Homo sapiens: one gene and its partners. The protein of the gene in region 7 interacts with the protein of the main gene of each other region in a biochemical or structural test. Each region holds a gene or a part of one and is shown on either strand. Other genes may lie near its edges.

Region 1 (4,134 bases), on a different chromosome or scaffold from region 7:
TTGACTCTGTCTGTTAAATGGTGGCTCTTGGAAACCAGAACGAGAGGAGGTGGTAGCTGTTGGAAAAGCTGTCAAAGCTGTTGTGAGAAACTGAAGCAGTGTGGGGAATCCAGGCCCCCTGTTTGTCACTAAATGTTTAACTCTGTTATGAACGGGATACATGTTTATTCTAGAAACTTAAGAAATTACAATTGAGAGGGAAGTTTTGAAAGATAGCATAAAAATCAGCTAAGCCCAAGTGAAAAACCTCTGTTAATATTTTGGTCTGTATCATTTGAGTCTTGTGCGTATATGGGTGTGAATAAATATATAGTCCTGTGCTTTTTTTGTCTTTTTGCCAAAAAAAAAAAAAAAATCCACTGTGGTAGTCACCAGTACCTAACAACCTTTTTAAACCTCATACATCCACACGAAATAATATTTGAGCAGCCTGCTGGCATCAGTAAGACTGCTCCTCAGCCCATGGGCCTGACCTAGCAGGCTGTCCCTCGCACTGACCACTCTGCTGTCAGCACACCCATAGCCTACTCTAGGAAACCGCACTGCTATCCTGCAGGCTCTTCTACACCCGACATCACCTGGAGAGGCTGCTGGGCCTTCCACCCCACGGATGTGCTGTAACGAGTCAACCTTCCTCCCATGATTGGGCATTTCGAACGTTTCCAGAGAAAAGGTTGTCTTGAAAGGTGACAACCAAAGGCTGCCTCAGTGTAACCTCGTCTCCCTCAGATGAAGACCTTTTAAGTTACAGACTTTGCAATAAAGTCAAATTGCTAACATGAATTGCCTGTTTAGGTTTATTCAGTGAGCGAATATGAAATTTGTTTATTTTTGAGACGGATTCTTGCTCTGTCGCTCAGGCTGGATGGAGTACAGTGGCTCGATCTCGGCTCACTGCAACCTCCGCCTCCCAGGTTCAGGCAGTTCTCCTGCCTCAGCCTCCCAAGCAGCTGGGATTACAGACGTGCACCACCACACCTGGCTAATTTTTGTATTTTTAGTAGAGATGGGATTTCCCCATGTTGGCCAGGCTGGTTTCGAACTCCTGACCTCAAGTGATCTGCCTGGCCTCAGCATCCCAAAGTGCTGGGATTACAGGCATGAGCCACCGCCCACGGCCTGAATATGAAATTTAAAAACAGAGTTTAAATCCCCTCCTTTTGTGTCATTGCTACTCCCCACCACCACCCGCACTACCGCCCATATTTGCTGTCACCAGAAGCAGGAACATTATGCTTAAGGGGAAGTTCAAAAAAGGTTGAGCAGAGAAGGAGAAGAGCACGTGGCTTTGAGTCTTGGCAGGCCCCTGGCCTTCCACAGTGGGCCTGGAAAGCTAGTAGCTAGTACGGTCTCCATGGGGATCTCGACGATCCAACCTTTTGATTGCCAAGGGCTCTCCACACAGAGGCCACATAGTCAGGGTTTAGGCAGTAGCATGGGCTGTGGAGCCAGCTTCCTGGGGCGACCGCTGGCTCTGCCACCTGTGAACTCTGACCTCAGACACATTGCTTAACCACGCTGTTTCTCCGTCCTCATCCTTCCAATGCAGATGGTCACAGGACATACCTCAGTGTTAGGAGGAAAATTAAATGTGTACAAAACTCTTAGCACAGTGTTAACTCCTTAATTATTGGAAAACCTCTTAGCACAGGGCTGAGTCCTAATAATTAGTTCTTAATTATTCACATAGCAAGGTCAGCAGGTTAAAAAAATGCAATTAAGATGATTTTATGTGAGAGCTGTGGAACGAACATAATATTTGGGGAAGAGTTGGTTTGACTTAATTCTCAAACCAAGAGCTTTCATGGAACTTCATTTTTCACTCCAACCTCAGACCCATAGTTCCTAAGAAAATAGCTTTGTTCTTTCTGATGCCAGATTTTTTTTCCCTGTTGCAAGATGCTGTGTGTCTGAGGTGGAAGATTAGCCCAAGACTATGCAGGGCCTTATGAACAGGCACTTTCAGGAGTGAGTGGCTGTTGGAACCCACCTCCTAGATGACTTCCCACTGTCCACTGGCACACATCCCCTTGCCCTGCCACCTCCAAGATTTCAGGCTCTTTCTTGCTTCTCTGCTTTCATTCTGTTGCCTTTTTTTTTTTTTTTTTTTTTTTTTTGAGACAGAGTCTTGCTCTGTTGCCCAGGCTTGAAGGCAGTGGTGCAATCTCAGCTCACTGACCTCTACCTCCTGGGTTCAAGCGAATCTCGTGCCTCAGCCTCCCAAGTAGCTGGGATTACAGGTGCATGCCACCATGCCTGGTTAATTTTTGTATTTTTCGTAGAGATAGGGTTTCACCATGTTGGCCAAGCTGGTCTCAAACTCCTGACAAGTGATCCACCTGCCTTGGCCTCCCAAAGTGCTGGGATTACAGGCGTGATCCACCGTGCCCAGCTGCCTTTTTTTTTTTTTAATTGACACATAATTGTACATACTTATGGAGCACAAAGTGGTACTTCAGTACATATATACATTGTGCAATGATTAAATCAGGGTAATTAGCATATCCATCACATCAAATGTATCATGTCTTTGTGGTAGGAACATCCCAAATTCTCTCTTCTAGCTATTTCAATAAATGCAATACCTTATTATTATTTTTTTTTTTTGAGACGGAGTCTTGCTCTGTTACTCAGGCTGGAATACAATGGCATGATCTTGGCTCACTGCAACTCCACCTCCCAGGTTCAAGCGATTCTCCTGCCTCAGCCTCACAAGTAGCTGGGATTACAGGCGTGTGCCACCACACTCAGCTAATTTTTGTATTTTTAGTAGAGACGGGAATTTCACCATGTTGGCCAGGCTGGTCTCGAACTCTTGACCTCAGGTGATCCACCCGCCTTGGCCTCCCAAAGTGCTGGGATTACAGGCGTGAGCCACCATGCCCAGCCCTGTTTTTGTTGTGTTGTTGTTGTTTTGTTTTGTCTTTTGTTTTTTTTACACTCAAACTGCCTTGGCTATTCAGAGTCCTTTGTGGTTCCATGCACATTTTACAACTGTTTTTTTTTTTTCTATTTCTGTAAAAAATGTCATTGGAATTTTGGTAGGAATTGTACCGAATCTATAGATGACTTTGGGTAGTATGGACATTTTAACGGTACTCTTCCATTGTCTTCCTTACCTTCCTCCTCCTCACTCTCTGGCCAAACTCCCCTTGTCAGCCCCATTCATGTCCCCACCTCCTCTGTCAAGTCTTCCTGGGATAATCTGGCTTCTCACTCTCCCACTCCTCTGAATTCGTCAAGACAGCCAGAGCTCGGTGTAGACCTGTATCCCAGCTTTCGTATTCTGTATGTTTTCCCTAGTTAGCCTCAGCCCCTGCACTAAAAAGGAAGCCTCTTGAGCTCGGCACTTGGACTGTTTTACACTGAAGTACATCATTCACATCCCCCAGTGTGAGCCAAACCCACACACCACTGGCCAGATACTGGGACTGAGAGGTCCATGAGGGCCCTGCTGCATCCACGCAGGAGTAGGGAACCAAATAGAACAAGAGCCTGACGCTTGCGGCTTTGCCATCAGAGGGTGAATGGCATAAAGAGACCCAAGTGTGCAATGATTAAATCAGGGTAATCAGCATATCCATCACATCAAATGTATCATTTCTTTGTGGTAGGAACATCTGCCATCATAGAAATACCAAAAGAGAGAAAAATGGGCAGATGTAAATGTTTCTTCTGCCGGCTAATCTGAGTTCTCTTAGAGCGTCTAAAGCAGGGTGGTATTTGTTAGATGTGGGTACTCTATAATTTTAGAGAGAAAACCAGGAAGACAAGAAGGGCCTCCATTTAGGCCACAGAACGCCGTTTTGTTGTTGTTGTTGTTGTTGTTGTTTTCTGAGACGGAGTTTCGCTCTTTTTGCCCAGGCTGCAGTGCAATGGCACATTCTCGGCTCACTGCAACCTCCACCTCCCAGGTTCAAGCAATTCTCCTGCCTCAGCCTCCCAAGTAGCTGGGATTACAGGTGCCCACCCCCATGCCCAGCTAATTTTTTTTTTTTTTTTTTTTTTTTTAGTAGAGATGGGGTTTCACCATGTTGGCCAGGCTGGTCTCGAACTCCTGACCTCAGGTGATCCACCCGCCTCCGCCTCCCAAAGTGCTGGGATTACAAGCATGCGCCACCACGCCCAGCTTTC
Region 2 (4,134 bases), on a different chromosome or scaffold from region 7:
AAGATAAACCAAGCCTACAGTAAATAAAGGTTTGAGAAAAATACATCTAGGAATAATCTCTTTAGTTGGATATCAAACAATGAAAGTAGTTTGGTAAAAAACAAGGAGAGAGAAGTTGTCTAATTATCAAGTGTTTTTTATTATCCTGAGTCATTTGGAACTGGAACAAATATCTCATAATTTTTATTATTTTAAGATGGATTTTTCTCTTACTTCAATATCAATATTGTTGAAAGGTTCAACTTCTTTTGATGTTCGTATTTCATTTCCTTTTGGGCCATGAATATAGTAGTGATAAATATGCCTAAAATAGAGAAGAATAATTTTATACTTTTAATTCACATAAAATTATAGTTAATGTAATCTTCTATCAAAATATTTTAACACTATTTACTAGGTATCAAGCACTTTATTAAGCATTTTAAAATACATATTCCATTTAATGGTAAAAACAATTGAGATGCAGGTATTACTGCATCTCATTTTACAGATATAGAACCTGGGGTGCAAGAAGTGTATGTAAGTTATCTGACATCACAGAATAGAGTTAGGGAGCCGTGGGCTTCAACCCAGACCTTTCCAACTTCAAAGACCACATACACCACTTCCAAGAGGAATAATTCATCAAATAAATATAAACTAGACAGCAAGAGTCTATAATTCTACTTACCAGGTACGTTCCAGAAAGGACTCAATTATCGGTGGTAAACTGGATTAGGTATCTAATCTCAATAAGAGAATACCATTCCAGAACAGCAGTCCCCAACCTTTTTGGCACCAAAACCAGTTTCATGGAAGACAATTTTTCCAGAGATGGGAGTTGAAGGGGGGTGATTTGGGATGAAAATGTTCCACCTCAGATCGACAAGCACTAGAGTCTCATAAGGAGCACGCAATATCTCACATGCACAGTTCACATTAGGGTTCGTGCTCCTATGAGAAATCTAGTGCTGCCAGTGATCTGACAGGAGGCGGAGCCAGGTGGTAATGCTCACTCGGGCCCACCACTCACTGTGGGGCCGGGTTCCTAAAAGGCCACAGATGGGTACCAGTTCACGACCGGGGCGTTGGGGACCCCTGTTCTAGAACATTCATCTCTCCTCTCCTATAGCACTGAGACAATCTTACCCTAAGATTCCAAAAACAAAACTAGTAAGTTTGACACCATCTCACTGAAAACCAACATTTTGGAAATAACACCTCTTTATTTTTTCAGAAAAGGTTAAAAAAGATTATATTTTGGTAACATTGTTCAGGATTATAAAATACCACGTCTTTATTCGTGAAATAGAAATTTGCAATATTTCTTCATAATCCTTCATTAGAGCAAGAGTATATTTAAATTATGTGTTAATGTACACTGAGTTCCTTCAATAAACTATAAAATAGCTAATAAAATATGTACTTGAAGAAAACTGCAAAGTCCTACTTAAATACCTTGGGTAACAGGGATAATAAACAACTTCAACAAGAAAAAAGGTATTCCTAAAACCAAATTTATTTTCCCATAAAAAAATTTTAAAATTCTCTTAGCGTATAATTACGTATAAAATTGAGACTCTCAAGAACAATAGCCTTTTGGGTAAATGTAAAAAGATACATTTTTAAAATATGAATTTTGAGCAGATGTACCCATTTTGCAAGTCTCAGTAATTCATACTAATGCAAATTAGGGAAACAATACAGTAAATCGTATGTATCACATAGCTATAAAAAAAAAATTTTAGGCCGGGCGCGATGGCTCACGCCTGTAATCCCAGTACTTTGGGAGGCTGAGGTGGGTGGATCACCTGAGGTCAGGAGTTCAAGACCAGCCTGGCCAACACGGCAAAAACCTGTCTCTACTAAAAATACAAAAATTAGTTGAGTGTGGTGGCACGCGCCTGTAATCCCAGCTACTCGGGAGGCTGAGGCAGGAGAATCACTTGAACCCAGGAGGTGGTGGTTGCAGTGAGCCAAGAGTGCGCCATTGCACTCCAGCCTGGGCAACAAGAGTGAAACTCCGTCTCAAAAAAAAAAAAAAAAATTTTTTTTTAGAGCCATTAAATAACTATTCCTCTGATTTGGTCTAATGGAATATAGAGTCCCTACAAGTGTTACTGGAATAAAAACACAATGATTATTTTCAGTACTAATGTCATATAGGCACATATGTACGTATATTTTTTATTTTAATAGGCTTGATGCATTCATTCACTTGATAAACATTTGAGCATCTACCATGTAGCAAGTATTCTTCTAGAAGACATTGGAGATACAGCAGTGAATTTAACAACAAAAATAAATATATATGGTATGGAAGATTACGACAGGTCCTATGGAAAAGAAGCACAAAACGGGGTCATGGAAGTGATATAGTGCTCAATCTGACAAACTGTGAAGTTCTTTTTTAATTTTATAATATTGTCAAAATCCTGTGCCTCAAATAATGCTCAGTACACTAGAGGTGATCTATAAATATTTACAGAATAAATGAATAGAGAGCTGTTTTAACACCAATATCAGAGTACTGGATAATACTAAAGGGAAGAAAATGAGACAGGAGCAAAACGGATACCAAAGAGGCTTCAATATATCTGTAATGTTTTCTGCCTTAAAAAAGTTAAGTAGCAACATTTCCTAAGCCAAATATAATTACTTACGCTAACTGTCGTGTCCAAAGGTGGAAATAATTTTTCAAGTACTGTATGTGTTCTGGTTGTACCCCTGTGATAACCACAGCAGTAAAGCTATCTTTTTCCTTCTCCTCTATGATAAGATGATGTAGAAATCTTTCATCATCATTTGTAATGTGAACAGAATCAGAGGGCTACAAGAGTGAACAGAAATACAACAGATTAAATCATCTAAATTATAATTATACAAATAGCTATTGCATCAAATTTTAATGTGATTTACTTGGAGTTTCACAAATAGGTTTCAGAAAAGCTTTGGAGGAAACTGGCCCAATACAACAAACTGGCTGAGTATGTGACAACACTGTGAAGACAAGGGAACTTTCACACAGACTGCTAAACTAGCATGCATAAAGAGCACCCTATCTTATAATGCTAAACCGATTTTAGAATCATAAACGAAAAGGTAAAGACAAATACTGAGTTTTAAAATGCCTTAAAAAATTGAGGACACTTACCCCTAGGGTAGAATGAACGCTTGCTTGGGAGACCTACCACTTAACTTGGTCAGGACCAATGCCCAGCCCTCCATGTTCAAGAAAACTACAGGGCAGGCTGGACCCAGCTAGCTAAGCCCAAACACATAGTGCTTAAAAGTAAAATCATCCTGGACACCAACCCACTTTCAGAGAATATCTAAAACTTATGGAAGGGAGTTAGTAGGGGAATTTGAGGATAAAATTACAAACTTCTCCATCTGTAGTATGAATCTATGTTTTAAAAAATTGCAGGCCGGGCGTGGTAGCTCACTCCCGTAATCCCAGCACTTTGGGAGGTTGAGGCGGGCAGATCACCTGAGGTCAGGAGTTTAAGATCAGCCTGGCCAACAAGCCGAAACCCCATCTCTACTTAAAATACAAAAGTAGCCAGGCGTGGTGGTACACGCCTATAAACCCAGCTACTAGGGAGGCTGAGGCAGGAGAATCGCTTGAGCCCGGGAGGCTGAGGTTGCAGTGAGCCAAGATCGCGCCACTGCACTCCAGCCTGGGCAACAAGCATGTCTCAAAAAACAAACAAACAAACAAACAAACAAACAAAAAACATGGTATGCACGCATGCGCGTTTGTGTGTGTATTCATATACAGTCATATGTCACATAACATTTTTGTCAACAATTGACTGCAGTGGTCCCATAAGATGATACAGTATTGTAAAATTAGTGTACCTTTTCTATGTTTAGCTACACAAATATTTACCATTCTGTTACAACTGCCTGGGGTAACAAGCTGTACAAATTTGTAGACTAGGAGCAGTACCCTATACCATATAGCCTAGGTGTGTAGCAGGCTATGCCATCTAAGTTTGTATAAGTACACTCTATGATGTTCACATAGCAACAAAATAACCTAATGACACATTTCTCAGAATGCATCCCTGTCCTTAAGTGATAGGAGACTATATCTACTGTGTATGTTGCTATATACATTATAAAACTGTGGAAATAAAAACAGACTAAACT
Region 3 (4,134 bases), on a different chromosome or scaffold from region 7:
AGCCTGGCCAACATAGTGAAACACATCTCTACTAAAAACACAAAAATTAGCCGGGTGTGGTGGTGGGTGCCTGTAATCCCAGCTACTTCGGAGGCTGAGGCAGGAGAATCGCTTGAACCTGGGAGGCAGAGGTTGCAGTGAGCTGAGATCGCGCCACTGCACTCCAGCCTGGGTGACAGAGTGAGACTCGGTCTCAAAAAAAGAAGAGGAAAGAAAAGAAAAGAAAGGAAGAAAGGAAGGAGGGCGGGAGGGAGGGAAGGAAACAGAAAGGCAGGGAGGGAAAGAAAAGAAAAAAGAAGTATTAAGTAATGGAATAGAACATAATCTACAGATGCTGTCGTGTCTGGCTGGCTGTGGTGGCTCATGCCTGTCATCCCAACACTTTGGGAGGCTGAGGCGGGTGGATCACTTGAGGCCAGGAGCTCGAGACCAGCCTGGCCAACATGGTGAAACCCTGACTCTACTAAAAATACAAAATTTAGCAGGCCATGTTGGCACACACCTGAAACTCAGCCATAAGATGAGTTTTCACCACAGCTGGACCCTAACCAACAATTATCATATCAAAGTTAAAAAAAAAAAAGGGAACAAATAAAAAACTTAGCATTCACTAGAACAGGCAGATTTGGAGAGATGGATTCATTGGTGTTGGGCAAAGGGAGTGGCACACAAAAAAATACTTTATATTTCTACCAGATCTATTATTTAGTTACTTACACATGCAAAACAGCACTTATATTCCAGTTAGGTACTTAGCTAGTACTTAACAGCCTTTCATTATGTTCATCTACACATTGAAGATAAACTCCAAAACATATGCTGTTTTGATCAAGAAATTAAAAAATATTTATATAAGCAAGTCCTATAGCTCAATAATAAGACAAATCACCAATAAAAAGTGAGCAGAAGGCTGGATGTGGTGGCTCATGCCTGTAATCCCAGCACTTTGGGAGGTCAAGGCGGGTGGATCACAAGGTCAGGAGTTCGAGACCAGCCTGACCAACATTGTGAAACCCCATCTCTACTAAAAATACAAAATTAGCCAGGCGTGGTGGCGTCTGCCTGCAATCTCAGCTACTCAGGAAGCTGAGGCAGGAGAATTGCTTAAACCCAGGAGGCAGAGGTTGCAGTGGGCCAAAATCGTGCCACTGCACTCCAACCTGGGAGACAGCGAGACTCCGTCTCAAAAAAAAAAAGAGCAGAAATTTGAACAGCTATGTCACCAGAAAAGATACAGGAATGGCAAATGAGCACACAAAAGGTTGCTCCATATCATTAGTCATTAGGGAAATGCAGATGAAAAATACAATGAGATACTATTAAACACCACTACCATGGCTAAAATGAAAAAAGACTGATAATACAACTTGTTGGTGAGGACGTGAAGCAACTGGAATCCTCATACACTGCTGGTAGGAATGCAAAGTGATATAGCCACTGTGGAAGGCAGTTTGCCAGTTTTTCAAAAATAAAGCTGAATATATACTTACCACAGAACCTGGCATACAATTTCTAATTATTTATCCAAGAGAATTGAAAACCTATGTCTCCACAAAGATCTGTACCCAAATGTTCATATTTATTTATAATAGCCAAAAGTGAAAACAACACACATATCAATGGATTGGCTAATGGATACAAAATGTAGTGTGTATAGATATATACACACACAATGGAATACTATTCAGCAACAAAAAGCCATGAATAGTTTCTATACATTCACACCACATCTCAAGACCATTAAAAGACTATGCTGGTTGAGTGCAGTGGCTCACGCCTGTAATCCCAGCACTTTGGGAGGCTGAGGCAGGCAGATCACTTGAGATCAGGAGTTCGAGACCAGCCTGGCCAACATGGTGAAACCTCATCTCTACAAAAATACAAAAATTAGCTGGGCATGGTGGTGTGCACTTGTAGTCTCAGCTGCTTGGAGGCTGAGGCAGGAGAATCGCTTGAACCTAGCAGGGCAGAGATTGCAGGGAGGTAGAGATTGCAGTGATCTGAGAATGCGCCACTGCACTCCAGCCTGGGGAACAGAGCGAGACTCTGCCTCATTAATAATAATAGTAATAATAAAATGAAACCACCATACTAAGTGAAAAAAATAAGACGCAAATAACTGCATATGATTCCACTTAAGATGTTCTGCTGGCCAGTTGCAGAACAGGAACTCCCTGTACTAGCTTTACAATTTTTTTTTTTTTTTGAGACAGAGTCTCGCTCTGTCGCCCAGGCTGGAGTGTAATGATGCAATCTCGGCTCACTGCAACCTCCACCTTCTGGGCTCAAGCGATTCTCCTGCCTCAGCCTCTTAAGTAGCTGGGATTACAGGCACATGCCACCGCGCCGAGCTAATTTTTGTATTTTTAGTAGAGACAGAGTTTCACCATGTTGCCTAGGCTCGTCTTGAACTCCTGACCTCAGGTGATCCACCCGCCTTGGCCTCCCAAAGTGCTGGGATTACAGGCGTGAGCCACCGCGCCCAGCCTACAATTTTTAAAATAAATCTAAAACTATTCTAGGGCAGGCGTGATGGCTCATGCCTGAAATTCCAACACTTTTGGAGGCTGAGGCAGGTGGATCTCTTGGGCCCAGTTGTTCGAGACCAGCCTGGACAACATGGTGAGATCCCATCTCTACAAAAGAAATACAAAAATTAGTTGGGCATGGTGGCGTGTGCTTCTAGTCCCAGCTACCAGGGAGGCTGAGGTGAGAAGACAGATGGAGCCTGCACGATCAAGGCTGCAGGAGCAAGCTGTGACTGCGCCATTGCACTCCAGCCTGGGTGACAGAGTGAGACCCTGTTTCAAACAAACCAAAAACAAACAAACTATTCTTTCTTTTTTTTCTTTCTTAAAAAACAAACTATTCTAAAAAATAGAGTTTATTTTTTAAAAAGATTAATCATTGGAAATACGAACCACTTTATTTACTGTCACATCTCTACAGGAAAAGAAAGCTATAAAAATGTAGCAATCTTTCCCCAGAAAACTGGATCTCAATTTGCTGCAAAGGCTAAAACTAGAATGTAGTCTGTCACTAGGTGGAAATGGGAAAACATTACTGAAATTGTATGGCAATAAAAAATTTAAGGAACGGCTGGGTGCGGTGGCTCACGCCTGCAATCACAGCACTTTGGGAGGCCGAGACAGGCGGATCACGAGGTCAGGAGATCAAGACCATCCTGGGTAACACAGTGAAACCCCGTCTCTACTAAAAATACAAAAAATTAGCTGGGCATGGTGGCGGGCACCTGTAGTCCCAGCTACTCAGGAGGCTGAGGCAGGAGAATGGCGTGAACCCAGGAGGCGGAGCTTGCAGTGAGCCGAGACGGTGCCACTGAACTCCAGCCTGGGCGACAGAGCAAGACTCTGTCTCAAAAAAAAAAAAAAAAAAAAAATTTAAGGAACAAGTTCTTAAACTTAGAGAGACTGAGATCAGAATACAAAAGTTCCAAACTATTAAATTTTTTCATCTACATAAGGTGTCCCTTTGCAGAAACAGCTTCTTTGTCTTAGGGGCAAATTCAGTGTCTTTGATAGTTTCTCTTGAATAATAATTTTATTAACCAGCAAGGCTAAGTAAGCCTTTGGAGGCAGATGGCACTACAGATTTTTATTTTTTAATTTTATTTATTTGTATTTATTATTTGTATTTATTATTATTTTTTGAGACGGAATCTCGCTCTGCTGGGATTACAGACGTGAGCCACCGTGCCCAGTCTATTTTTTTTATTTTTTTTTGAGATGGAGTCTCACTCTGTTGCCAGGCTGGAGTGCGTTGGTGCAATAACAGCTCACTGCAACCTCTGCCCCAGCTAATTTTTGTATTTTTAGTAGAGACAGGGTTTCACCATCTTGGCCAGGCTGGTCTGGAACTCCTAACCTCAGGTAATTCACCCACCTTGGCCTCCCAAAGTGCTGGGATTACAGGCGTAAGCCACCGGGCCTGGCCTAGATTTTTTTTTTTTTTTTTTTTTTGAGAAGGAGTCTCACTCTGTCACCCAGGCTGGAGTGCAGTGGTGCTATCTCAGCTCACTGCAATCTCCACCTCCTGGGTTCAAGCGATTCTCTTGCCTCCACCCCCCCTGAGTAGCTGGGACTATGCTCGCCACCAAGCCGGGTTAATTTCTGT
Region 4 (4,897 bases), on a different chromosome or scaffold from region 7:
GCTATTCCCATCAAACTACCATTGACTTTCTTCACAGAATTAGAAAAAAAAACTACTTTAAATTTCATATGGAACCAAAAAAAGAGCACATATAGCAAGACAATCCTAAGCAAAAAGAACAAAGCTGGAGACATCATGCTACCTGGCTTCAAACTATACTACAAGGATACAGTAAGCAAAACAGCATGGTACTGGTACCAAAACAGACATATAGACCAATGGAACAGAACAGAAACTTCAGAAATAACACCACATGTCTACAACCATCTGATCTTCAACAAACCTGACAAAAACAAGCAGTGGGGAAAGGATTCTGTATTTAATAAATGGTGCTGGGAAAACTGGCTAGATGTATGCAGAAAACTGGAACTGGATCCCTTCCTTACACCTTATTAAAAACTTAACTCAAGATGGTTTAAATACTTAAATGTAAAACCCAAAACCATAAAAAACCTGGGCAATACCATTCAGGACATAGGCACGGGCAAAGACTTCATGACACCAAAAGCAGTTGCACCAAAAGAAAGCAATAATTCTTATAGGAGGAGGAGGACAAAGTGTCTTTATGATAGGTCTCTGGAGAACAGGGGGATGGGAATAAATGTCGTGACTGGGTGTGGTGGCTCACGCCTGTAATCCCAGTACTTCGGGAGGCCAAGGCAGGAGGATCACTTGAGGCCGGGAGTTCGAGACCAGCCTGGGCAAAATGGTGAGACTCCACCGCTACAAAAAATGTAAAACTTAGCCAGGTGTGGTGGTGTGCACCTGTAGTCCCGGCTACTGGGGAGGCTGAGGTGAGAGGATCAGTTGAGCCCAGGAGGTTGAGGCTGGCAGTGTACTCTAGCTTGGGTGACAGAGTGAGACCTTGTCTCAAAAAATAATAAATGTCATGATAGATACAGGATGATGCTCATGAAAATAATTAAGTATATATGAGAAGAAAATAATTCAAGTGAGAAACAACAGGGCAATTACTAACTTAAGGAAAAACAAAAGACTATACCGTATAAGAAAAGAGATGTAATCATAATATTGTAACTTGGCTCTGTAATGGACAATATCTACCTAGTTATAATGATTCAGAGAATGACACTTTAAATAAAATTGGTGATATAACTACGTCTAATCGTATAATTCACGAGGTGACTTTGGTTTAGACATTTCTGTCTCTGGGCCTCAGTTTTCTCAGCTGTGAAATTAGAGTGTGAGTCCTTTCTGCATCTTTGAAAGTTACCTAAGCCCTTGACAAGGTTTGAAAGGCAGCCATTTGCAGAAGTTACCTCCTCCTACAAAAACTGTTTTTGATGTGCTGCTAATGTTTCCATAAAACAAAAAGAAAGCCAAGTTATTTTAATAGGTTAGCATAAAAAGGAGGTATAAATAAATATAAAGGTAGGTAGCTTTACAGATACCAAGGCTAGGTAGGGATAATTTCCTTAATTTTCACTGAATTAACACAAGTCCATAAAAGAATATTAAACAACCCAAAAGAAAAATATGCTAAGAATATAGACAAAATCCTCAAGTTAAAATATGTAAGTACATAGTAAATATATGAAAAAAGAAGAGGGCTCCTTCATAATTAGAGGAATGCAAAGTGAAATAAGTTATAGCTTTTCATCTGTGAGACAGGCAGAATATTTAAAGTTGTCCATACCCAGTGCTGGAAAAGGAGTGGGAAAAAAGGCACTTTCGTAGACTGTTGGAGAAAGTGTTAACATAGGAGATTATTTGTCAACAGCATAGTTTTTGAACTTTTGAAATCCCACTTGTAGGAATTTATCTTATGCACGTTTATCAGGATATAATATGTAAAAGGCTATTCATTGTGGCATTGCTTGTTTCTAGAAAGATAAACGAATGAGTCAGGAATTGAATAGCCACTTTTCTCAGTAAACCGCCCATAAAGAGTAGCCCCTGGTGGCAGCCTCTGGTAATGCAGGCATAGTGTTTAGGAGGCTAATTTAGGTGACACTGTTCATCACCCTTGTTGATTTACCTTTAAGAGTATTGTCAACTGTCTCAAGTCCCTCGTGAAGAACAGGTTCCAGCTTATCCACGACATTGCTTAGGTCATTGCCAAGATTGTCAAGAAGAGACTCTGAGGTCCCAGTGAGCACGCCGCACAGGAGAACAAGTTTCCAAAGCTGAAGCATCTTTTGTCTTGACACCTGGACAGTCATGGGAAGAACAGGAGTGAGAATTGCCCAGAGGGAAATGGACTCTTCAGTGAGTTCCCATCACTCTTAACATTTAGCATTCCATTAAGATAGATGTGGTTATTTCCTATTTTACAAATGGGCAGCCAAGGTCAGAAAGCTACAGCAACTTGCCCGGAGACACACAGTCAGTGAGCAGAGGAGCTGGGATTTGAAAAGTCAGACTTGACTCCAAGCCCATACTCTTGACACAAAGTTCCTTTTCATACGCTGTCTTCTCTGCCTAAAATATTTTTCTTCTTCTTTACTTTTCCACTTAGGTCAATTCCTACATCATGCCCTCTGTGAAGCCTACTGTAGGCCCCTTCCCAGATTCTAGGTTGGAGGAGTCCCACCTTGCTGCCTTCATTATCCTGATCAAGGTCTTGGATAACACTTCCCTGATGATTTGACCACCTTTCCTACCAGGCTGTGAACTCCTTAGAGGAAGGACTGTGACTTATTTCACTGTCGAATCCTCAGGCGCCAGTAAAAAGCCTGCACCTAGTACAGTACAGTAAACGAATAAATCTTTGTTGAATATAAGTATGAACAAATCAATGGAGACCACCTCATGACCCTGCATTGTTCATTAGTTTGACACTTATTTTAATATAATCTATAGATCTCTAAATTTACTCTGATTTGCCATTTGTCTTGACACCTGGACAGTCATGGGAAGAACAGGAGTAAGAATTGCCCAGAGGGAAATGGAATCTTTAGTGAGTACTCATCACGAACTTGCCATTTAGAGCACATTTAGAGATATATTGATTATCTCTGCTGTATTCAAAATATTAGCTAACCCAAGCAATCCCACCCCTCTGCCTCTTGCCCCCAAAGCCTTCCAAAGACCACCACGTGTGGTGCCACTGGGGGGAGCACGCCACTCACGCGTTTAGAGGAGGATGCTCATGAAATCCTTGCCCCACTGCACAGTCTGCTGGGATTCTGCTGAATGGTGGCGGCTATTATATGGTGGAGATGGGATGGAAGGCTGCCCACAGAAGCAAGCCTTGGTTCTGGGATCATCCAAGGACACTCCAAGGAAAATAACCCCTCTCCAGGATGAGCAGAGAGAGAGATTTCCAACTCAAAGGTCACCCAGGATGCTTGAATTGAAACGGATGGCTATGGAGAGGGCTTTCCGCCAAGACTAAGACCAGGTCCTCATGGAGCCTGCAGCTACCGAGGGGGTGGTCCTTGGTCCTTGTGGGTGAGGACTGGGAGAAGACTGAGAATGAATGAATTGGAGAATGTCCTGGCAGGAGGACCCATAATGACCATCCGGTCTAACTCCGTCATCATTTGGAAACTGAGGCTCAGAGAGGGGAAGCCACCAGCCTGGGGTCATTCAGCAAGACAGGGACCGAGATGGGTCTAGAATTGTGGCCCACAAGGAGTCAGACAGCCTCCCAGGGGTCCTGCCCCCAGGGGTCTGCACCCGGCAGGTGCAGCAGATGCCTGGCAGCTGCTTGTGCTGACACTGGGCTTGGTGTCCCTAAAGGGCACTTTAGATGCACTTTTCTGTTAGTCTTTATGAAAACTCTGTAAGGCAGGTTTTCAGAGCTCCATTTTCCAGTTGAGAAAGCTGAAGTTCAGAGAGGGAGGTGGCTTGTCCATACTTGCAAGGACAGGAACCAGGCATTTGGGCCACCAGGGAAGACCCTTCCACCCATATCAGGCTGAGGTCAGTTAGCAGAGAGGGAGAGTCCCTGGGCCTGAGTATCCTGTTTTTGCTTCGGCCACTGATGTTTGGGTTGGTTGTAACGCCTGCTGCATTGGGCCTGTGTCAACCCGGAACAGCACAGGAAACTCGGGTGGGTGCCCACTTGGCCTCAGGCTGGGAAGGACTGGCACAGAGCTCAGGGTCACCATAGGTCTCTGCCCTTCTGCTCACCCACCTGCAATTCAGCAAGGACCTGGGGGGCCTGTCCTCAAAATGATGCAACCAAGCAAACGGTGGGACAAGACCAGTGGCTCCAGGAGCTGGCTGTTCCTACACTGACCATGGCTCCACTGTTACAGCACAGAGCTGGGCGGCTGCAGGAAGGTGATGGCCAGGCCCCAAGAGCCCAGACCATTAGACCCCTGCTGCAGTCTTGCCTGTGGTCTTGAATGGTTGTCACACCTCCTTCCCTGGCTGCCTGACACCGGGTTCTCCAAACGTCTGAGCCCCGCTCTTCCCCCAGTTGTGAAGCACAGAGCCAAGGGCTGTGCTGAAATCTTGTGAAGGCAGTTTGTCCCAGCCCAGGAACATAGCCCAGGGTGCTGAGCATGATGCAGTGACCTCGAGACCTGGTGTTGGCCCAGGCCTCAGTTGCCTCATCTGTAAAATGGGTAAACACGCTGTTCCTGGATCTCAGAGGCATGGTGGACAGGCAAGGACCTAGGAAATCAAAACGATGGTGAGGGGCTTTGAGGGCAGTGCTCAGAGCCTGGCACTGGGCTTGGGCTGTCCTGGGCATGAATACTCTCTCTCTGCTGGTTGCTGGCCATGTGACCTGGGCCAGAGACCGCACCTTGCTGAGCCTCAGGCTCTTTATCTGTGAAATGGGACTAAGAACAGTGCTCACCTCAAGGGCATGCTGTGAGGTCAAATTAGTGTAATACCCATGAAGGCTTAGCATAGGGTAGGCCCATGATGCACGGCAACAGCAAAGATGGCGAAGAAGATGCTGATGAATATGTGCGCATAT
Region 5 (4,134 bases), on a different chromosome or scaffold from region 7:
ACTCTGGCTCTGTTTCCCTGCCTCATCATTCCTCTGGCTCTTACTGTGAGCTGTAGCTTGCTCTCCAGCAATCTGTTATGGTGACTGGTGGTTGGCAGGGACCTTCCGTGTTCTTGAAAATCGGGATTCCAGAGGGGAGCTTCGGGGAGCACCTCTCAGCAGAGTAGCAGCTGACACTTCCCCTTTTCTTTCCTGGCACTGTGGTTAGAGCCCAAGACCTGCCCCTGCCCAGCTGAGGCCTCCAGAGGAAGTGCTTCAATCCACCGTGCCCAGAGGCCCTAACTCACTGCTTCTCTCCAGCCCAGAACCATCCACTGGGTGCCCCTCGTGCCATCTCAGCTGTGGCCATACTGGGCCCTGCCCTCGGGGCTCTTCCTGCCTGTGGAGGCTTGAGTTCTCCCTCTGGTCAGGAAGTCGTGGCACAGGAAGTATAATACCTGTTTCAGGAAGTGGGCTCAGACCCAACACTTCTCCTGGACTCATACATAGTCCTGCTGGGAGGGTGCCTTCCTTTCCGGAGACTCCCAGCCATGTCTAGGACAGAATTCTGGTCCTGCAGGGAGGCAGGGCTGGGGCTGGAATGCTGTCTTCCCGCAGGGCCCTGCCCTCACAGAGTTCAGCAGGCAAGGGTGTGTCCTCACTCAGCTTTCATCAGAGACCTCCTTTCCCAAGGCCTGGCCTCAGAGAATGGTAATCCTCTGTGGTTTCTGGGAATACTTTCCCATGCTTTATCCTTACTGGTCCCTACCATCCTCCCTAAGGCAGGCAGGGTAGAGATGACCCCCTCCAGCACCTTTATGCTGAGGAGGCCAGAGTGGGAAAGGCTGGCTGTACTCCCAGCTCTTTGCTGCCCGCGAAGTGTTCCAGGGCTCTCCTGGAGAAGGCCAAATATGATGGGGGCTGTGATGATGTGGGGCTGCCTCTTGCTGAGCTTAGCTCTGTGGGAGAGCCTGAAGGGCCTGTGGCTTTGGGCTAAAGCACATCCCTTTGCCAAAGCCTGCCCAAGTTGGCTTCCTTAAGGAGACCCTTGTCCCATAGCCGCAGGAAACTCTTCCTTGCGTCTAGTGCAGTTCCCTTCAGCCCCCTTCCTCTGCCTCCTTTCTAGGCAGTCCCAGAAGCTCTCACTTGGCACCTGTGACCAGCCACTGCTACTCTTCCCCCACCACCCTCAGCCTGTTTGCCTGGCTCCTTCCTGGTTCTTGACTCTCTCTGACCCTTGGAAAGTTTTCTCTTGTTTGCACTGGTCCCCAGGAAGGCCAGGGCTTCTGTACTCCCTCCTCTGAGAGCTTCCAGCAGGACTGTTGAAGGGGGTTTCTAGGTGAGGGGAAGTTAGGTGTGAGCTGAGGTCCTGGGCTTCTGTGTCAAGCATCCTCCTGGGATGGAGGGGCAGAGAGGAAGCCATTGCTTACTGAACACAGACTGTGTCAGGCCCCACACTAAGCACATTTTCCCTCTCTAATGGACTCCTTTGACAACTCTGCACAGTAGTAGGTATTATTCAGATCTTACAGTTGAGAAGTGGTTGGCTTAAGGTCAGCGCTAGATTCAAACCCACATCCAGATGTTCTTCTCATGCCCCGAGCGCCCATCCCCTTTATCCCAGGTCAGGCTGCTTAGTGCAGGGGTTGAGGGAGTATCATTGGCCATCTCACCCCTCCCCCACCACAGCATTTCACAGGAGTGATGCCTCTGCCTTTGTCCTTGCCCACCTTGACGGGTCAGGGCAACTGCCTTCAGAGCCTCATTCTGGTCCCAAGCCCAGGAGGAGCCCACTGGTGATGTAGAAAGTACACGGGGCTGGGTCCCTCCAGCCTGTGCGGTGCAGCTAGGAGGTAGTAGGGTTTCTGATTGTATGACAAATTTACCCCCACTCTGCTTGTGTGATGAAATTTCCCCCACGAATTTTCCCCTACCCTCAATGCCCCATTTGTAAAAGACATGATCGTTTTGATAGTTTTTCAAATTGAGTTTTGCCAGTGAAAACTTTTCCTGATAAAAACAGCTAGCCGGAATTGAGCACTAGCTCTGGGTCATGAGCTGCCTCAAATACTTCCTCCCTCACTTCTCCCATTCTACGAGTGGCAGAGAAGACCTGGGCCATTTTAGCAAGGGCTGAGATCAGGACTCACACTCAGGCCAGCTGCCTATGCCCCAGGCTGGTGATGTTGGGAGCTCAGGGTCAACGAGAGGAGAGTGGGGATTCTTGACCAAAACAAAGAGGGAGCCATTTGAGCAGCTCCCATCTTCCTTCAGAGTTCTGCTGAGATTTCTCCCCTCTAGGCTGGCGGTATCCTGCCACATGGCTGCTGAAACCAACATACCTGCGTGAAAGTGCCCAGGCCACACCTCTGGGCACATTCTGGTTCATCTCATGAGCTACCTTCCCTGTGGCTGCAGCTGAGCCGCACACAGTGCAATGCCCTCCCTGGTGACAGACTATGGGGTTCACCCAACTTGTAATGGTTCCTTTTCCTTTTTTTTTTTTTTTTTCCTGAAACAGAGTCTCGGTCTGTCGCCCCGGCTGGAGTGCAGTGGCACGATCTTAGCTTACTGCAACCTCCACCTCCTGGGTTCAAGCGATTCTCGTGCCTCAGCCTCCCAAGTAGCTAGGATTACAGGCGCCCACCACCATGCCTGGCTAATTTTTTGTATTTTTAGTAGAGACGGGGTTTCACCATGTTGGCCAGGCTGGTCTCGAACTCCTGACCTTAAGTGATCTGCCCTTCTCGGCTCCCCAGAGTGCTGGGATTACAGGTGTGAGCCAGCGTGCCCGCCTATAGGGTTCCATTTTGATTCAGAAGATAGTTATGAGGGTCTGGAATTCCATGGCAAACCTCAGGAATGCCTGTGTTGTCACCAGGGATGTGGGACCCTGCCATCACCTGGTGTTAGCATATCTAATTGCAGGCACCTCCTCTCCCCGCACCATAGGATTGGCATGGTAGCAACAGTAGGAAAAGTCCTTTTTTTTTTTTTGAGACAGAGTTTTGCTCTTGTCACCCGGCTGGAGGGCAATGGCACGATCTTGGCTCACTGCAACTCTGCTTCCCGGGTTCAAATGATTCTCCTGCCTTAGCCTCCCGAGTCGCTAGGATTACAGGCGCCCGCCACCACACCCAGCTAATTTTTGTATTTTTAGTAGACACGGGGTTTCACCATGTTGGCCAGGCTGGTCTCAAACTCCTGAACTCAGGTGATCCACCCGCCTCGGCCTCCCAAAGTGCTGGGATTACAGGCGTGAGCCACCTTGCCCGGCGAAAGTCCTCTTTTCTCCCTGTTTCTGCTCTTGCTGCTGTGTGCACTGAGGGCCCACCACGCATTGGCAGAGGGGCTGGGCTAGGGGAGCTGCCTGGGTGGCTGCATGGGCTCAGCTGTCCTTTTGATTTTCAGATTCGTCTGCGGTGCCAAAAGGGCATCCCGCCTTCTCTGCGGGGCCGTGCTTGGCAGTACCTGTCAGGAGGCAAGGTGAAGTTACAGCAGAACCCTGGAAAGTTTGACGTAAGTTTCCCTTCCTTTGCCCTGCCCTCCCTTCCGCATCTCTTGGCGTCCTCCCCATGGCGGCAATCCTCCATGTGCTCACCTGAACCTCACAGGATGAGCAGTCCATGAAACCTCCAGTCATGTGCCCAACTGCCCAGGCCCCAGCAGGCCAGACCGGCCCAGTCCTGGGTACCTGTGTCTCCTGGAGGGTCTGTACAACTGAGGCTCCAGCCCTGAGCAGCCCTCAGTGGAATGGCCAGATTTGGTACCCCCTATTCCAGCTCTTTCTCTTGATGACCACTCAGGTTTTGCTTTCCTGGGCTCAGTAGGCTACCTCCCTGCTCTTGGTCATCAGGAGGGGACACTCAGACCATTTCCCTGACTGCCTTGGGCCCTGTGCCCTGGGCCTATGGGGGCTTGACTAGCAGGACCACAGGTCCTTCAGTGTCTCCCGGCCTCCCATCCTCTACTTTCTCCTGCCTTGTCCAAGCCTGGCCAGCACAGCCCACCTGTGTGTCTTGTGGGGTCATCAGCCCTAGGAGTAGCAGAGCCAAACCCAAGGGGGCTGAAGGGAACTGCCCAAGTAGCTCAAGGGGTCAGACGCCAGTCAGTGGCCAGAGAGGGTGCCCTCTGTTGTTATCCCTCCTCCTGTCC
Region 6 (4,134 bases), on a different chromosome or scaffold from region 7:
GTGTAATTTAAGCTACCGGCTGCCCATGGATCTCAGTCTCTTTGCTTACTCACCAGAAAGATCATACGGTGGTGAAACTTCGACAAGATCACAGCCCATCACGTTCAGGCCTTGACAACCCCTGATGATCTCCAGAGCCTATTCAAGATCAAGACTGAGTTGTCCACAGTGGTAATCATTTACAGTGAAAAGCACCCAGTAGAGCTTTTCCCAGCCCACGCCACCCTTTGACTTGGAATTGGCTTTCCCTCCATAAACATTTGTTGACTGCCAGGCACACTGGCAGGCCTCCCAGAGAAACAGATAATGCGTACACAGTCCCTGCTCCTCAGGGCTGCATGGTGTGGTGATGGAGACAAGGAAACCAATCGTTTCAATGTCATGCACCAAGGGCTTCAAGGAAAGCAAGCCCAGAATGGTATCAGCATAGGTAATAGCCTGGAGAGGTGGGTAAGGCTTCCCCAAGGTGGAAATACCCAGTTCAAGGGATAGGCCAGGCAGAGGGAAAAACACAGGCAAAGGCACCAAGATGGGAAAAGTTCAGGTAGTAAGATGTGGCCAGAAGACAGAGTAAGTGAGGGAGACTGATGGGAAGAGAGTGACCTTGTCTGAAAGGGTTCCCATCCTGCAGGTGAAAAGCCCAGAAGGTTGCTAAGCAGAGGGATGAGGAATGTGTTTCAGAAATCCCTCATGAGAAGAGAGGATGGTTACAGCCATTTCAAGAGAGAGAGTTATGGCCACCCTCCTTTAAGATCTTAGAGGATGTAAGGTACTTGATTAGGTTTAAGCAGTCTTCATTCATTTACTCTCAAATGTCTTTGAGTGCCTACTATTTGTATTAGGCACTGTCCTAGGCTCCAAGGACAAGGTAGGGAACAATACATAGGTCCTGCCCTTGGGGAGATTCTAGTCATAACCATTCTGCCCCCGTGCATTTACTCCCAGCACACATTATTGGAGCTTTATTTGGGTGTTTCTAAAACTCTTGAGCTTACCTTGGCAGGTAATTGTGCCATCACATGCACTTTTATTTATTTATTTATTTATTTATTTATTTATTTATTTATTTTTGAGACAGGGTCTCTGTCACCCGGGCTATAGTGCAGTGGTATGATCACGGCTCACTGAAGGCTTGACCTGCCAGGCTCAGTTGATCCTCCTGCCCCAGCCTCCCTAGTAGCTGGGACTACAGGTGCACACTAGCACACCAGACTAATTTTTATTTTTATTTTTAGTAAAGATGGGATCTCACTATGTTGCCCAGGCTGGGCTGAAACTCCTGGGCTCAAACGATCCATCCACCCTGGCCTCCCAAAGTGCTGAGGATAGTGCCTGAGCCACCGCGCCTGGCCCGTTGTATGCACTTTTATTTAAATTTAACCCTAAAAAGATAAGTTTAGTGTTTTTGTTTGTTTTGAGATGGAGTTTCACTCTTGTTGCCCAGACTGGAGTGCAATATCATGATCTCGGCTCACCACAACCTCAGCCTCCCAGGTTCAAGTGATTCCCCTGCCTCAGCCTCCCGAGTAGCTGGGATTACAGGCATGCGCCACCATGCCCGGCTAATTTTGTATTTTTAGTAGAAATGGGGTTTCTCCATGTTAGGCTGGTCTCAAACTCCCTACCTCAGGTGAACCACCCGCCTGATGCCTTGGCCTCCCAAAGTGCTGGGATTACAGGTGTGAGCCACTGCGCCCGGCCAAGTTTAGTGTTTTTGTTTGGTTGGTTGGTTGGTTTTTTTTTTGAGGTGGAGTCTTGCTCTGTTGCCCAGGCTGGAGTACAGTGGCACGATCTCAGCTCACTGCAACCTCCGCCTCCAGGGTTCAAGCAATTCTCCTGCCTCAGCCTCCCAAGTAGCTGGGATTACAGACGCCTGCCACCGTGCCGGGCTGATTTTTGTACTTTTAGTAGAGACAGGGTTTCACCATCTTGGCTAGGCTGGTCTCGAACTCCTGACCTTGTGATCCACCCGCCTCGGCCTCCCAGAGTGCTGGGATTCCAGGCGTGAGCCACGACACCTGGCCAAGTTTAGTGTTCTTTTTTTTTTTTTTTTTTTTTTTTTTTGAGATGGAGTTTCACTCTTTCGCCCAGGCCAGACTGCAGTGGTTCTATCTCGGCTCACTGCAAGCTCTGCCTCCCGGGTTCATGCCATTCTCCTGCCTCAGCCTCCTGAGTAGCTGAGATTACAGGCACCCGCCACCGCGCCCGGCTAATTTTTTTGTATTTTTAGTAGAGACGGAGTTTCACCGTGTTAGCCAAGATGGTCTCGATCTCCTGACCTCGTGATCCACCCACCTCAGCCTCCCAAAGTGCTGGGATTATAGACGTGAGCCACCGTGCCCGGCCAAGTTTAGTGTTCTTAAGAGAGGATACTATAATGTTGTTCCTATGAACTGTTGTTTTCATGACAGATGAACTGAAGGCAGGAAGAGCAAATAAAGGACAAAATAAGGGACTATTATATCCCAGATAGGAAATGAAGGCCCTTGCCAAAATCAATCACCCTTCAGTAAGAGGGTATTCAAACTTATCCTCAGCCCAGAGAACAGAAAAGGCCTAGGTGCTCTGCTCTTAAAATCCTACCTTGGCAGCCAGGCGCGGTGGCTGACACCCGTAATCCCAGCACTTTGGGAAGCCGAGGTGAGTGGATCACGAGATCAGGAGTTCAAGACCAGCCTGACCAACATGGTGAAACCCCATCTCTACTAAAAATACAAAAATTAGCCGGGCGTAGTGGCATGTGCCTGTAATCTCAGCTACTCAGGAGGCTGAGGCAGGAGAATCGCTTGAACCTGGGAGGCGGAGGTTGCAGTGAGCCGAGATCGCACCACTGCACTCCAGCCTGGGCGACAGAGTGAGACTCCGTCTCAAACAAACAAACAAAAATCCTATCCTGATTCCTAAAGATTCGCTTCAAGTCCCAGGAAAATGGGTGTTAAGTGTCTCCACCCCCAGGATCTTCACTGGTGGAATCTCCTTACCTGACTAGGAGTGAGACCAGCAATTTCAGGTGTCCCTGTCCCTGGCGCATAGGCAGGATCCAGAGCGTCAATATCAAAGCTGATATAAATGGGTTTGCCTCCCATCTGCTGCCTGACTTCCCCCATCAGAGGAACCAGCGACTTCATCCAGCAGTCTTCAGCCAGGACTACCCGGAAGCCCTGCAGAGACAGGGACTGAGGTTTCTGTCTGGCAGCATTTACAGGGCATTTCCTGTTTGCCAGCCCCATGCTCAGCTCTGTGTGCACATGACACTTGACCCTCCATCTCCATGAAGAGGGAACTATCCTATTTTACAGGTGAGGAAGGGAGGGACAATGAGTGGTAAGGAAGCAGGGTCAAAGCTGACTGATGGAGTTGGAATCAGAGAGAAGCTTTGCTAAAGCAAGAGTGGGAAACAGCAGCTCACGCTAGCACCTTTTGAATTGCTCTGTCCAGAAGACTGGCCTTGGCACGCTCTAAAAGCAAGGGATTTGGGTCTGTTCCATTGGGGTCTTGTCATACACGTCTATCTGAGAGCCATTCTGCCTAGAGGGTACGAGGACCAGAACTAAGAAGGTGGCAACTCATCTTGGGTCCGGACTTCCTCCCCTCTTTTTTTTTTCTTTTGAGATGGAGTCTCACTTTGTCACCTAGGCTAGAGTGCAGTGGCGCGATCTCAGCTCACTGCAACCTCCACCTCCCACGTTCAAGCAATTCTCCTGCCTCAGTCTCCCGAGTAGCTGGGATTACAGGTGCGCACCGCCACACCTGGCTAATTTTTGTATTTTTAGGAGAGACGGGGTTTCACCATGTTGGCCAGGCTGGTCTCGAACTCCTGACCTCAGGTGATCCACCCACCTTAGCCTCCCAAAGTGCTGGGATTACAGGTGTGAGCCACTGTGCCCGGCCTCCTCCCCTCTTCTAAGCCAGCACCGTCCGAGGGGTTGGTCGATTTCTGCTTGTCTCCCCCGCCCAGCGATAGACTTCCCATGGCCCATAAACCAACTTCCTCACTCCTATGCTCCTTATGCCCCTGATGATGCAAACTCAGCCTTGTATCCCTGCTTCAGACTTGATTAGTAAAGCCCCCGCTCAATCCCTGGCTGCCACTGGTGAGGCAACGGAGAGGAAGACATTTTGAGGGGCAAGGGT
Region 7 (4,134 bases):
ATTATTTTAAAAATCTGCAAATAAGATTTTCTTCTGTATATTTAATAAAGCAGCAGTTACTAATTTTAAATTTAACATAATTCTCATGTATATGGGCAAAAAAGTGGTAAGAAACTAAAAGAGAGAAAAAGATGAGTTTCAAACACTGACGGCTTGCCTATCCCTAGAAACTATGTATTTTGCCTCCTCTCAAATAGTGGGAAGTTATCAAATTATATATTTTCCGCCAGAATAAAGTGAATTTACTAATATAAGAATTTCAAATAAATCAACTGTAGTAGAAAATTAAATCATTTTGTTATAGCTAACATGAGTATAAAACAGTTTTCACAAGTAATTTTTAATTTACAGATTAAGAAACTGAAATTTAGTGGGGGAAATTCAGTTTTTTTGTTTGTTTGTTTTTGCCACACAAGTAAAAATAGGAAAGCTAGGAAAGGTTGACATATCTTCTAATTTCTAAGTCTATTCTATTTCCCCTACCATAAGGAATGCTGAGAGATTAGTGTGGTGTTGTCTTGATTAATTTCTCTTTATTATTCTAGATAGGCAGGTCTATGGTTTCTATCCGTTTCTAGAAGAGAAAAAAAATGGCAAAAATGAAACACTGGGGTTCCTCCTGTCCTCCACTTGTGATCTTAGGAATGATTCTTAACTTCTCTGAACCTCTTCTTTTTCATCTGTATGGTGGGGATAATGACGATAATATTGCAAGATTTAAATGAGTTAGTACATGTAAAATGTTTAGAATAGTACCTGGCAGAAAGTAAGTGCTCAATAAATGTTAGCTATCCTTATTTCCATTCTTCCTCCTAAACATTTCCCAAAAGTATATAAGTTAATCGATTAGAATGCCTATCCTACATTGGCCCTCCTTTTCCCAGTAATGAACCAGATATTTCTTCCTAACCTGCTACAATCATATAAGAAGGGTGTAGACTCCTTCTTGTTTATATGGGGTCATACAAGGCATAGCCAAAATTTCCTCTGGAGGATGGGTACCTCCTGGAACGAGGTAAAGTATTTCTAGCATCCAATTCCCATTTGGAAGACAGGGGAGAAATAAATGCGCCATTATGATAATTCTAACTAGTTATATAAACGAAAAGCTTCAGTCCAGTGGAGAGTAAAGCGGTCCAAGCCACTGTTCAATGTAAACTCCCTCAAAGCATGGGCTAGAAGCACAGCAAGAAATCCATCACAATCTGGACCACGAGCAGCACTTGCGCGAGAACAAGACCTGCCTGGGACCCAGCTGCAGCATTCTCCTGTTCAAGTGGGGTCTCTCTATTTGCAAGAGAAATATGCCCCATGCCCTAGCAATAGATGAAACTCCAATAAAACAAGACAGACTTACTTTGTGAAATATCTATTAAGTGCATATTATTTTAAAAAGTTGATAGGCTAGAAAGATAAATACGTTAAATGCACTAGCTTTGATGGCATGAAATGAAGGGGTGGAGGCAAAGCAGAAAGGACATGGTTGCAGGTGAGATTTGGAAAGGGGTGGAAAGTTAACGAGGTGGAGGATACAGTTAAGTTGTTCCAGATGGCAGGATCTGACAGAGAAGGCCAGCGAGGGTTAGCAGAATGGATGAGGATGGGGAGACAGGAGAAATGAGGTCCAGCACAGAGAGAGAGAGCATTCTCAACCCAGATGATGATCAGTTCTGAATCATATCACAGAGTGGATGAGGAATCATTAGAGAAGACTGCTGAAGGAACCACAAGGCTAGACACAGACAGATGGGAAAGAGCAAAGTGACCAGAACAGAAAATCCAAGGCCACCAGCAAAGGAGCCATCAGGTTTGGAACACTGATACTGAACTCTGTGATGGATTCAGAATTCCTTGGATTAAAAGATTCTGCAGATGAGAAAAGATGGGAAATATTTTTCCTCTTCCATTAAGACAAAACATTTAAATGTGTTTCTTTAATTAAGATTACACTTAGGAAATGAGTTTCTAAATAGAAGAACTTTTAAACACAGGATGAGTGTCAGAGTTTAAAGGGATTTAGACGTCACCTGAGTAATCCATTAAAAGTTTATCAGACAAACTGTGAGATTGTTCTTGTCAGAGAGAATTGAGAATAAGATTACTGGTTGTCTGAGATGGTTGAGTTTCAGTTCTCTCTGGAAACAAGTCCTAGACGAATGTCTGACCTTCCCTTTCAAGCATAATGATTCCATGATTGGGGTAAGTGTAAGGAACAATGACTGAAAAAATGAGAGTGAGTGTGATCACAACCCAGCCTTTTAATCTTGCTCAGTGCCAGTGGAGAGAGCAATACCCATACATGCCCAGACAGCAGAAAAGGAGAAAAGATACTGAGGTTGGGAGGAGAAATCAGGAAGAAGAGAGGGAGAGAGAAAGAAAGTAGAATGCACAGCAGGGAGCAGTTCCCTGCCAGCCACAGATGTCTCACTTAGACACCCCATTGGGATGAAGGTCAACGGGGCTGCTTATAGTTTGTTAGTGGGAAAGGGACAGGGAGAGTTAATTCTATTTTAGGCCATATGTGTATTTGGGAAGAGAGAGAAAGTGAAGATAAGTAGAAAATAAAATGACACGTAGGCCAGCTATGATGAAAAATGTTGAAGTCTATACTAAAGTGAAGGCAAAGGTTTCCGACATGAGCTTTGAGCCAGTAGAGAAAAGACAGAGAGAGAGGGTGGGTGGCAGCAAAACAATGAAAGGTGCCCAGAGCCGTGCTCCCTGTGGAATGTCAGTAAATATTAATTGGCTGATGTTGGCATTGGTAGGCAGAGTGAAGCTTGTGAAAGAAAAATGCCATTGCCAGTGGAGCACGAAAGTTCAGATCTCGGAGCTCAAAATGGCAGCACCTGAGCAAGCAGCAGAGTCACATCCCATATCACCAGAGAAAGTGATTCTCTGCATATGAGGCCAAACTGTCTCAAGGAAAAGTAATCACACAATCATGACAAGAGAAAAAGAACAAAGTCTGTGGGAGCCATGAAAATATCTCCCCTTCTCTGAGAACATACTCCCTTCCCCTGAGGTATGGTAGCCCCTAGCTGAGAAACCAGGGCTGTCCCAGGTAAACAGCTGTGAAGGTAGGTGCCAAGAAGCCTAGATTTACCCACTCCAGAAAACCCTTTTGTCAGATGTCTCTGGAAACCTCACAAAATGTTATTTTGGGATTTGGCTCTAAGGTTGGGTAATTGGTAGACTCTCATTCTGGAGGAAGAAAAGAACGGCATTGCTTCTTTAGATTTCAATATTAGATGGGAAACGGAATGCTTTTGACGGTGCTTGGTGTTTTCATGAACCAAAGTTCCTCTCATAATGGCAGGCATGGGCCTTTTGGGTAAAGGTTATTTTCTTGCTCTTGTTCTACATTGGTAGGTACCTGATAAGGCAAAATGATTGAAACAGTGGCTTGAAACATTAATAAGAAAATGACTCAATTCCCAAGTCAGAGAAGTGCTAAGTTTACCTGAAATATATTCTACTATAATACTGTGGATCAGTGTCTATGTGGAGTGATCCAAGGACTTGTCTAGAAATACATGTTTTATACATCTTTTAAAATTACATCTGACCTAAAGAAAAAATATTTATTGTTCAATAATATATTCATTTTAAAAATGCTTTTTACACCTATAAATTGTCCCAGCCCAGAATTCTAAGTGCAAAAATGTCAGTGTCTGGCACATAGTAGGTACTTAATCGATATTTGTTAAGTATGTATTAGATATATGAAGAATGTAAGAATCAAGTAAAAATATCAAGAATGTGGGTGTTTGTAGAAAATTGTTTCCCTTTTATTCCATCATTTTCTCCTTAAGAAAATTAAGAAGAAATTGCAATTGCCATATTGCTTTTTCTTGTGGGTGATATCAACCACAAATAGCAAGGTAGTTTTGGAGTCATGAAGCAAACTTCCCCCTGCTAAGATCTGGGTAAGGTTTTAGCCACAAGAGGCCTAATAAAGCTCTTGAAGCATTTCCTAAGAGCTCACAGAAGATTTAAATGCCCTACTACTTTCAACTAGACAAATCCAATTCATTTTAACAAACAGTTTTGAAGTGCCTACTAAGTGTAATGCCTTGTGCTAAATGTCTGGAAGAGTGAGTGTTAGGTGGAGCCCTCAATGGGTATAAAGAAATA

Evidence for each region.
Region 1: the proteins of GRIP1 (region 7) and PDZD2 interact in a test that uses a peptide from one of them, tested with the Homo sapiens proteins (one large-scale study listed by IntAct).
Region 2: the proteins of GRIP1 (region 7) and SMCHD1 interact in a test that uses a peptide from one of them, tested with the Homo sapiens proteins (one large-scale study listed by IntAct).
Region 3: the proteins of GRIP1 (region 7) and EZH1 interact in a test that uses a peptide from one of them, tested with the Homo sapiens proteins (one large-scale study listed by IntAct).
Region 4: the proteins of GRIP1 (region 7) and BPIFA2 interact in a test that uses a peptide from one of them, tested with the Homo sapiens proteins (one large-scale study listed by IntAct).
Region 5: the proteins of GRIP1 (region 7) and TBC1D10A interact in a test that uses a peptide from one of them, tested with the Homo sapiens proteins (one large-scale study listed by IntAct).
Region 6: the proteins of GRIP1 (region 7) and AGMAT interact in a test that uses a peptide from one of them, tested with the Homo sapiens proteins (one large-scale study listed by IntAct).

What each region holds. Positions count from the first base shown.
Region 1 is NC_000005.10:32,082,858-32,086,991, forward strand, and holds part of PDZD2 (PDZ domain-containing protein 2), read left to right. Parts: intron 1-4,134.
Region 2 is NC_000018.10:2,693,202-2,697,335, reverse strand, and holds part of SMCHD1 (structural maintenance of chromosomes flexible hinge domain-containing protein 1), read right to left. Parts: intron 2,810-4,134; coding exon 2,643-2,809; intron 305-2,642; coding exon 214-304; intron 1-213. UniProt on the Homo sapiens protein: Non-canonical member of the structural maintenance of chromosomes (SMC) protein family that plays a key role in epigenetic silencing by regulating chromatin architecture.
Region 3 is NC_000017.11:42,734,798-42,738,931, forward strand, and holds part of EZH1 (histone-lysine N-methyltransferase EZH1), read right to left. Parts: intron 1-4,134.
Region 4 is NC_000020.11:33,166,405-33,171,301, reverse strand, and holds the start of BPIFA2 (BPI fold-containing family A member 2 precursor), read right to left. Parts: upstream 3,144-4,897; 5' UTR 3,093-3,143; intron 2,172-3,092; 5' UTR 2,157-2,171; coding exon 2,000-2,156; intron 1-1,999. UniProt on the Homo sapiens protein: Has strong antibacterial activity against P.aeruginosa.
Region 5 is NC_000022.11:30,298,808-30,302,941, reverse strand, and holds part of TBC1D10A (TBC1 domain family member 10A), read left to right. Parts: intron 1-3,390; coding exon 3,391-3,498; intron 3,499-4,134.
Region 6 is NC_000001.11:15,574,704-15,578,837, forward strand, and holds part of AGMAT (guanidino acid hydrolase, mitochondrial precursor), read right to left. Parts: intron 3,162-4,134; coding exon 2,982-3,161; intron 139-2,981; coding exon 54-138; intron 1-53. UniProt on the Homo sapiens protein: Hydrolyzes linear guanidino acids to form urea and the corresponding amines. Displays specificity for substrates having a negatively charged head group and short chains including taurocyamine, guanidino propanoic and butanoic acids.
Region 7 is NC_000012.12:66,672,527-66,676,660, forward strand, and holds part of GRIP1 (glutamate receptor-interacting protein 1), read right to left. Parts: intron 1-4,134. UniProt on the Homo sapiens protein: May play a role as a localized scaffold for the assembly of a multiprotein signaling complex and as mediator of the trafficking of its binding partners at specific subcellular location in neurons.